Linked DNA regions of Homo sapiens: region 1 is linked to region 2. Evidence: fine-mapped expression QTL. A gene starts in region 2. The other region holds a variant in brackets. All regions are shown on one strand. Distances are from middle to middle.

Region 1 (5,391 bases), 330 kb after region 2:
AGAATGAATGGTAGACATTACTCTTGCAGAAACATGAATAGGATATCATTTTGATATTACTTCTGCAAACACAGCTAGCAAAGCCAATGTTCATTCTAAATTGCTGGTCAAGGTTTCACAAGAGTCACAACAAATAAAGAAAAAATCCTTGCAATTTAACCAGCTTTTACTGGGAGCTGTAATGTACCCAGTCCTTTCCTGGGCACTATCATAAATATAAGAAAAAGATGTTGACATTTTCCAGTGCTAACAGGTGAGGTTGGGTTAATTCTGTACTCCACAATTCCAAGGGAGCTAGCCTGAGAGTTTTTATAGTGTGTAAAACATAGGGTTGAGGCTGGGCATGGTCGCTCACGCCTGTAATCCCAGCACTTTGGGAGGCCAAGGCGGACAGATCACCTGAGGTCAGGAGTTGGAGACCAGCCTGGCCAACATGGTGAAACCCTGTCTCTACTAAAAATACAAAAATTAGCTGGGTGTGGTGGTGGGTGCCGGTAATCCCAGCTACTTGGGAGGCTGAGGCATGAGAATCTCTTAAACCCAGGAGGCAGAGGTTGCAGTGAGCCAAGATCACACCACTGCACTCCAGCCTGGGTGATAGAGCAAGACTGTCTCAAAAAAACCAAAAAAACAAAAATACAAAACATAGGGTTGGGATTCACTCACTTGGGGGCGCAGGGCACCTGACTTTGCCACATAAAGTGTAAACATGGGTAAATTTCTTAACTTTTCAGACTTCATTTATTCATCAAATAAGAATAAAAATACCCACCTCTTATCTTCATTATGGGGATTGAATGGATTAATGTATATAAAATATTTAACCCAATACGCTATAGACGTGCCATGGTGGTTAACGTCTGTCTTTGGCTTTCCCCCATATTAGCCTCTGAGACAGGGATTTTGGTGCAAGAAGTTTATTTGAGAAGTGATCCCAAGACACAGAGGGAGAAAAACTGAGACATGAGACAGAGAAGGAAGATAATAAAGGGTGATTTATTGAGCAGCTGACTGCTGTGGGTAACAGAACCCAACTCACTGGGGGAACTCAAAACAAAGTAGAACAGCTTTAGAATTACCCCTTCCCAGAAGCAAAGGTGCTAAGGTACTTATCTACCAACTTTCTGTTATTGGTTTAGGATTGATTCCTGGAGCATTAACCTTTCTGCACTTCTAGCCTGCCCTGCATGCTGGCCAAGCTTGCTTCCAAAGACAGAGAAATGACCTTAGGTGGAGAGAATTAAAGGGTTTTCAGTAAGCTGACTACAGAGGCAAGCACTTAGGGGATACAGACAGAGCTTCAACAGGATCTTCATGACTAAGACTTTATTTAACTTCCCCATGACTCCTTAGCCTCTAGGCTCTCACTGCTTTATGAGGCTTCTATAATTCAGGTAAAATCTTTCTAATTGTATTCTTTCCATTTGAAAATGTTAGGCCAACAGGATTTGAATGTATACCATCTGGGTTGAGTGGAGTTAGAGCTTTGAACTCGGACATACAGATTTTATAGAGAGTTGGCTTGCTAGATGATCTCAAAGAGTTCACAACTGAATTGGGGAGACTGTACACACACAAGTGAAAACATGTAAGTCAAATGCAATTTAGAAGTTTAAGGCACTAAAGTCAGCGCAATGGCATTTTCTAAGAGGTAAGACAAAGTTTCATCACTGCAAAATCTGCTGAAATTCTTAACGTTTTTCATCTAGTATCATTTGCCATTTTACTTTGAAATTTCAAGGCATCTGAATAGAGCACACTTAGTGTTGATTTGTTAAAGTGTGAGCTGTTTGGCATGATAGTAAAATGGACTAATTGTTCAGTATAGTAGAGTAAAAACGACCAAATTTTGGATACTGAATTCTTCTGGTTTATTATTTTGAAGAGAAAACAGAGAAGAAAATAGGTTATTTCCCAACTGTGGTATAAATACAGCATCAAAGCTGAAAGTAAGCATATAAAATTGGAGAAGCTTTTCTGAATATGTAAGTTGTGCTAATTAGAGTAGATAAAAATCAACTAATGAGTATCTAACTTTGTGTGCAGATCTGTGCTTAGAAAGATGGTGAAGTAAGAAAAAAAACATAGGCTTTACTGAGTTAAAAAACAGAGATCTAAGCTCTGTTTCTTATTAGCTGAGCAATTAGGTAACTTAGTTTCTCTCTCTGAAGTCTAAATGCATCTTCCCTTAAATGGGCATAATAAGACTTACCTCACAGTAGTGTGAAAAGAATATGACAGATAAATGCAACATGACATGTAAAAGTGTTAGAGGCCATCAACAGGTGAACAGACAAACAAATTGTGGTATGTCTTTACAACAGAATGCTACTCAGCAATAAAAAGGAATGAACGACTGATGCAGAAACCAACATGAATTAATCTCAAAATAAATACAACAGACAAAGGAGAGTATATACTCTAGGATTCTATTTATATAACATTTTAGAAAATACATAATAATCTATAGTGATAGAAAGTATATGAGTGATTACCTGAGGATGGAGGAATACGGAGGAGTGACAGGGCACAGGAAACTTCTGGGGTAAGCGAGATGTTCATTATCTTGATTGTGGTGCCGGCTTCATGGATGTATACATATGTCAAAATTTATCACACTGTGCACATTAAATGTGTGCCATTATTGTATGCAAATTATACTACAATAAAGCTGTTGACAAAACAGTATTAGGTGCGCAGTAAATGCAACTGTCCTTTTCTAAGTGTGTGTTTATCGGACCTTAATGCAACTTGCTTGGGGTCAACTTTGGTAAGTCCAAATCAGCTGAAGCTATACAGATTTTGTCTGCCCATCACTTCTTTCTTCTTCAAAAGAGCAACAGGATAGTCCCTCTTTTGGTAAATCTCTCCTCCCTGGCTCAAAAGCATGGTGCTTATTGGGGTTGCCAATCATAGAGACCCAACATTTTGGACACTTAGGAATAGGTGTGTGCAGGGAACACCATGCAGCCCTTTCAGATCCCCTCTACCAAATGCTGTGTGCCCAGCCCCC[A/CA]ACTACTTCTTCCTTTTGCTGCAAAGTTTGTATCTGCAACCTTCTTCAGAGGATTACCTTGGAGCTAACAGGGCTGCCATGCATATAGAGAGCCAGGGTTTACATCCCACTGACCAAGGCAAGCTGTAACCAATGACTGGCACAATGTTGCTTTTGCCCAGCTCCCTTGCTGTGGAAGGGGACAAATTCTGACATGTAATTTATGCTCTAAGCTCTCTGTGGCCCAAGGCTGGCACTTCATCTGAAATTGCAGCTTTGACCAGGAATTTTCTCTTCTTTATCCTGCCTTCATATACCCTTACCATTTTCTACTAAGAAAATTTCCTTAATAAAACCTCTTGTACCTGAATCTGACTTGAAACGGCATGGCAGCCACCTCTTTGGCCACTGAGATTTCCAGGAATACACCTGGGACTCCGGCTGACCTCATGAGGGTCTTTTAGATATTTTGAGACTTGAGCTAGGGCTATCTTTCCTCTTTGGTCATAATGAAGTATGGATGTGACACTGGAGCTCCTAGGTTCCCCACCTTGAGAAAAAACCTACTTTGAAAGGAATGCTAAACAGAGAAACTCACCAGAGATGAAGTGAGAAACTCCTGGTGATGGTTGGGTCCATGATGCCAGATACCTTTAACAACAGCACTCTTTTTCCTTCTGGGGTTGTTCACGCTGACCAATAAATAAAGCATGTATTTTGAGTCATACTCAAATATTTAAAAAATATTTTTCACACTTTTCAATTGTTTTTAGTAGTTTGAATTGATTTTCTTTGGAATACCAAACTCTCCCCTTGCACAGACTGATGAGATGAAATCACAGTGGGGGAATTTGGAGCCTAATTTGGAGCCTAATGAAAGAATCTTAGGTTTCTTTCATTAAAAATTATACTTTTCCACAAGACACAGACAATAACATAAAAACTCATTGTATCAAGGAAAAGCTGATCTTAATGGCACAGGCTAATGCTGATAGTATAAAAATGACTTCCTGAGAAAGTTTAGCTCACAAATGCTCTGAACCCTTACTAAATCAGATGGATAGCAGGACCATTAATGGCTTGGAGAATTTTCAAATTGAAATTTGCTATTTTGTGCAGAATATTAGAATAGTGCTTCATTGGCTTGGCTAAAATCAAACTAATGACATGAGAATTACTATTTTAATTCATTTAATGATTGCTTCATGAGTTAAAACTTTTTGCCTCCCTCTTGTTATAATTTTAAAAAATTAATCCACTCTAAAAGATGAGATATATGAAAATAAAACATTTCATGCAATAATCTTTGTTGTTTTTAGTGGTTTTTTAGTGGAGGGAGGAGATATATCTAGGATTATTAAAGGTCAAAAAGGTGAGATTGGCAATATTAAGTGTTACGGTATTTCTGCTCTAAGAACAAATATTTATAATAGTGGTTCTCAACCAGGGGAGATTTTACTCTTCCTCCCCACCCCCATGTATTAGTCCCTTTTCATACTGCTATGAAGAAATACCCAAGACTGGGTAATTTATAAAGAAAAAGAGGTTGAATGGTCTCACAGTTCCACATGGCTGGGGAGGCCTCACAATCATGGCAGAAGGCAAAAGGCACATCTTACATGGCAGCAGGCAAGAGAGTATGTGCAGGGGAACTGCTCTTTATAAAGCCATCAGATCTTGTGAGACTTACTCACTATCATGAGAATGGCATGGGAAAAACCCACCCCTATAATTCAGTAACTACCCACAACAAGTGGGGATATGGGAGCTACAATTCAAGGTGAGATTTGGGTGGGGACACACCAAAACCATATCATGCTTCTAGGGGATATTTGGCATTACAACATTTAGAAAGATACAGTATCTAGAAAGATTTTTGATTGTCACAAGTGTAAAGGAGGGGGCATTTGCTACTGCATATAATAGTAGAGGCCAGGGATGCTGCTAAATATCCCATTATGCATACGACAGCCCCCCACAACAAAGAATGGTCCAGCCCAAAAGGACAATAGTGCAGAGGGAATGAAATCCTCATTTACACCCTTGCTACCAAATCTTCCCTTTCTTTTACCTCAGAGCTGCACCTCAGAGAAACAAAAGGAACTACTCTAGACTGGAGTCTAAGGTAAAATGTCAATCCTGAAACCTCCTAGCCATGCCATCTAAGGTAAACTACTTTGCTTCTCTGTACGTTTTCCTTCTAATTTTGTAACAGTGCAATAGCACTTACCTCTTAGAGCTATTCAGAGAACGAAATGAGGTAGACACTTCCAGGAAAACTGCTTAGCACAGTGCCTGCACATAACACAGATCCAACACAGCTTAGCCATTTGTTGTTTTTGTTACAACAAGTAGAAGTTTGGGGCAGGTATAGAAGATAAAGCAAGAGGCTGGGCTTG
Region 2 (5,391 bases):
GAGAGGAAGGGAGGGGAGGGAGGGAGGTGGGGTGGAGGGTGAAGGCGGGGTGAGTAGTAGAAGGATGCGAAGGCTGATACTGAACAGAAAATGGAAGGAAATTTTTCCAAGAACCGGGGAAGGTAAGGACAATCGAGCTGGGAGGGACTGTAATGAGAAAGCTGGAGAGGCAAAGAAGGAGAGCAAAATCCAGAATGAAGAGCGAGGCCGTGGAAGGGTGAGAAATATACTTTGAACATTAAGAGGAAGAAAGCAAAATGCGTCCGGAACTAAAAATTCAATATAGGAAAAACAAAACAAAACAAAACAAAAATCAGGTGGGAGGGACTTCGTCCCTGAAACTGCCAAAAGAGAGGGAAAAATGCCACTGAGCATACCGGAAGAACAGAAAGTGAAGGAAGGGAGAAAGGAAAGAAGGCACATTAAACCAGGCAAGAAATAGTAAGTTACTTTTTAATTTCTTTTTCATTGACAACTTGCTTCCAAAGTTAGTTTGGGGACTATGCCCCCACAAAATTCTTAGCCACATACAGACCAAGATTATAGTAGGTAAAATCCTCAAGTATTGAAAGTTATTCCAACTTTTGCAGAATATTCTGCTATTGGCCAAAGCATCCAAAAACAGATGACTTCTACTTTTCAAGGTGTGTAGAAGCAGGTGGGGTGACACTTAGAAAAACACACCTTTTCTGAGAAATTAATAGAAATACCTCCAAGACATTTTGGCACACTCCCCTTCCCCCAAAGCATCCAGCCAACAATATGTCTTGGAATTCAAAGGCAAGCTGCCCACACTATAGCACTTTATGTCACTTGCATTCAACCATCTGTTAAGGAAATAGTGGTAAGACTGGAGGAGGCTGCAGTGGAGCCAGCTCCTGACTTACCTGGTCTGTGCAGGTGATGCTGCTGGAAAGTGTGCTGAAGGGATCCATGGCAGAGTAGCATTGCACAAGCACTTATCCACAAATACAGGACCCAGGACATCGCAGAGACCATTGCCATTCTCTAAAGAGAACATTCGACAGGAAAGGTTACCTCCGGCTTCAAGCCCCCAGCTCAGTCAGCCCCACTGATGAGGGAAGGGAGGTCTCAGACGTCATGTTCCTTTGCTACTTCTCTGGCTAGAACTAATGATCCAGCAGAGGTCATGCCATGAAGTGGGATTGAGAGAAAGCCCTTTTCAGATGATCATACATTCATTTTTTTCTTAATTCTGCAAAACAAAACTCCAAGGATTGGCAAAATGCAAAAATAAAGTTTTAGGCTATCAGTTAGTCGGTTTAAAACAATGCATGCTGACTAAAAATCCTATTTTACACAATGATCTTTAAACTATAGTTATCCCAGGCACTGAAAAGCTGCAGACTCCTCCTGTTCATTCTAACTTCATTGCAAGTCTGACATAAGCCTGGAAGGAAAGAGTGGGTTCTTTTTTTTTTTTTAATTCTACAGTCATGAATTTTTAATTGCAATGCTGTCTTCTAAACTAAGTAATCATTTCTCAGAGGCATGTTGTAATCTCCTGATAGAACTGATCCTTTTGACTGGACCTAAGAATCAGAAGGGATTGTGTTTAGCCAGAATGAGTTTCAGATGCAACACCTATGCTTCTATCCTAGAGCAAGCCATAATTTGCAATATTGCTTAGCCTCCTAAGATTCCATTGTAGCTTTTGTTGTATAGCATTGATGAATATGCATATACAGGTGGCATATGTATTTATGGATGAATATGTACCTTTTCTCGGGTGCTGAAACTTTGACAGTCTTATCTGCACCTATGAGGATCTTAGGAACTACAAAGGCTCAACTGCGCTATATATTGTCCAATTTCTCAAACAACACCTTATGCTGCATTTCATATTGCCAAATTAATCAAACTTGAAGCACCGTCCTTACTCAGCCAGTGATAGGGAAGCATTTTCTACACAAGAATCCAGTTAACTGTATGCTTTTCTGTTAGGCAGAGAGGGCTTTGGAAGATTTCTTTCTTTCTTTTCCTTTTCACTGTCAAATCATACCCTTCAAAAATCTCAACTATACGTTGAAAACGTGCTAGTAACCTCCCAGCCTGGCTTCTTTATTCATGAAAATTGGTTCTTTATTAAAAACTGATGTTCAGAAAACAAAAATATACATCATATGTATGCACATAATGCACGCTAATTTGTGGATTTTAGCAGAGAGATGCAGTCTTGGAAGGATTTTAGGACTATAATAGACAAATGGTGACAACTATAATTAAGTGCAAAGCAGGAAAACATTATTTTCAACAGCTTGGTGCTATTCATGCCTAAGTCTGTGATTCAGATGGAGCATTCACTTTCTAATTAGTTTCACTGCCCACTGTTTACTTTTGTATACAACATACTTTGCCTTATTGTTTTCAGAACTATTGGGATAACATACATGCATTCTCTTCAGTGGAAATAAACAGCAACACCCCTCCTGTGAAACCTAAAATGAATGTATTTGGGGACTTTTTCAGAATACCCTGCAAATTACAGAAAGACAAAACAGAGGTGACTGTGGATGTATTTACTGCTTGTGAATTGCAGTTAAAATGTACTGGAAATTCATCCAAACTTGAAAAAAAAATCCTGCCACAACCAAAACTTAATAGTTTTTCAATGACTGCTTTCTCTTGCTCATTTCTTCACCCATATAGATCCTACCACTCAAAAGGATTACTGTGATTTTATGCTTGCAATATATATTTTTTTAATTTAACTTTTTTAAATTCTCAGCATTACTTCCAAGCCTCCTGCATGTCACTCTCACTGCTTGCTCCTTTACCAAGGGGTTGTCTCAATGTTATTAAGCGTCTTCCCCAAATAAAGCATTCAGCCTTGCACAGTTCTCTAGATATGCCTGGATATGTTTCAGATCTGCTTTCTGAATCTTAAACCCTTAAAGATGCTTCTTACCTGAAAAATCCAGCCAAGAGCAGAGTACTCTATTAGTGTTCATTGGAAAGATCTAACACTTTTTAAAATCCATCTGTGCCACAATTTAAAATTTTTTTTCAAAGAGCTTCCCAACAATCTTCTTTATCAGGATTAAAAAAAAAAAAATGTTACTCTCTTCCGATCCTATTTCCACAGTAAAAAAAAAGACATCGGGTTCATTCAGACTGTATTGTCAGAAAAGGAGCCAAGGTTTGAGGGGTGGAAACCTTGTCATTTTCACCTTTAAATCATCTCCTGGCGTCACCTCTGCCTGACGAGACCTTTGAAGTGATGGGGAGATAATGTGCAGTTTCCTGATGAGAATCAGTTTATAGTTGCCGATGGACCATCCCCACTCCAGTGCATTCGGGGCAGAGTAAGGCAGCAAAATGTAGGAGCAGGGCTGCTATACGGTGCTGTAAGTAGCAGTAGTCTGTTTCAATACATCCCTCCGCTCTAAAGTATCACATGTCTTAAAGTGACATTACCCTCTATTACAGCTACAGTGAATTGTAATATCTGCCTACTAACTCTTCAACAACTCAAGCAGCGCTTTAACATTATATTGCCTGATTTATTACATTAGAAGTCCTACTGATACCACTGATTTAACAAAAGAGTAAAGAGGGAAGGAGAAACAAGAAAAAAGCATTCTGCAAAATACTGATAGTATTAGTGGGAGTTAGACTTCTAACAGTAAATGGGAAAGTGAAATATAAGCCATTTCTTACCTCTTAATGTTCTTTTTACCAGTAAATTAACCACAAATATTGTCAGGTTTATACTAATTTAAGTCTGCTGGTTGTTTCAGCAGTTAAATAGACTAGAATTTACCTGGAATAGGACATAGATGCGTATATGCATAAGTCCAATAAAAACCTTCTGAACTTTTTGAACATGTTTAATAAATAAAAATATGTTATTTTCAGCATCAAATGAAGAAATATGCTCACAGCTCTTTTTTAAAAAATTTTTCCTCTCCTTCAAATAACATGCTGGGGTGGGGAGGGAAAACACTCAGAAGTTCAACATCTTCTTCCTCTTACTACGGTTTGAACCCTTTCTTCTTCAGAAATATAGTATAATTTTGCCTAAATTTCAATGATGAATACAAGATGACCTAGTTTTCATTTATAGATTGTGCTGGTAATAATTCTCTGAAATACCCTCAGTTATTTCACAAATCACTTATAAAGCACCTACTATGTGTTAGGTGCCTGGGAACAAAGCAGAAAACGTGATTGATGAGATCCCCACTGTTATAGATGATACTGTCTAATCTTTTATGGTGTTTTCAAAATCAAGGTAGTTCTCATAATATTGCTTCCTTGGAAACATTTTGAAATTCCCCAGAATACTCTCTTGCCTTTCAGAGGCACAATAAAGAAGGTCCAATGCTGCTGCACATCTTTGCAAGTGATTCTGTTTTCTCATGTTACACACAGTGAGAGAGTTAGGGATCCTTCAGACTCGTCAGTCTTGCCAATTGGTCTTTCACATTGCACAAAACACACATAATAGCTCTTTGTAACATAACAACTGTTCTCTAAATCTTACCTCTAAACAGATTTCTAAGTAATAGTAAATATTAATCTCACAGTTAAAAATGTCAAAGTTCTAGTTGGTGTTGCATGTTTCACATCTGTGCCTCATTATTATTGTTCATGAGTGTGTACAGAAAGTTTACACTGACTGTACAGCATCAAGATAAAAAAATAATAACAGCAGTGGCAGCAGGTAATGTTTATCAAACCTTCACCAGATGCTAGCACATTCTATAGTATGTCTTGTAAAGTCTAATTTAATTCTTTTTACCAACCCCACAAGATAAGTATTATTATTATCTCTGTTTCACAGATGGGGAATGTGAGAGGAGACAGGAAGATTAAAGAACGTGCACAAGGTTGTGTGGTAGTAAAAGACAGAGCAGATTTCAAGCCCAAATGATTTGGCTCAAGAGTACATTCTTAAACACTGGGATAAAATATTTAATGGAAAAAAAATCCAAAAAAATAACTATTATATTTTCTTATTTCTTTAACATTAAGATAGTCTCAAAAAATGATTATTCATTCTTTCTAGAGGTACATATTACACCAGGCATTTGAAATATAGAAGTATACAAGATGGCTTTTGCCCCGTGATTGTTGTTGGTTGTGGTTTTGCTATGCTAATGAATTAAAATTAAAAGGAAGTTCACCTTTGCTAATAAAGGCTACTATTTTGAAAACCTGTAACCATTATGTTTTTCATTTCTAGAGATTAAAATAAGGGTCAAGATAGTTACTTCCATAATTCAATTTAATCGACCACCTAATGGATTACATTCAAGGCATTCAGATAGGCATTGCTGACAATTAAGAAAAAAATACTGGAATAAAGACTCGCCTTAACTATCATTCTAAATGCATGTAATGAAGCAAGAATATTAGCATAGTTCT

Evidence for each region. PIP is the estimated chance that this variant, and not a neighbour inherited with it, causes the effect.
Region 1: its variant is fine-mapped to the expression of TAFA1 in CD8 T cells (CEDAR, PIP 0.92).

What each region holds. Positions count from the first base shown.
Region 1 is chr3:67,668,109-67,673,499 of GRCh38, reverse strand. SUCLG2-DT (SUCLG2 divergent transcript) reads right to left here. Exons shown (of 7, transcript NR_109992.1): 2 at 3,591-3,684; 3 at 2,496-2,671. Among named protein-coding and RNA genes, the nearest start is that of SUCLG2-DT, 16 kb to the right of the region's middle. The variant A/CA (reference allele first, on the strand shown) is at 3,014.
Region 2 is chr3:68,002,241-68,007,631 of GRCh38, reverse strand. TAFA1 (TAFA chemokine like family member 1) reads right to left here and starts at 3,385. Exons shown (of 5, transcript NM_213609.4): 1 at 2,930-3,385; 2 at 888-1,008. The coding sequence starts at 1,005.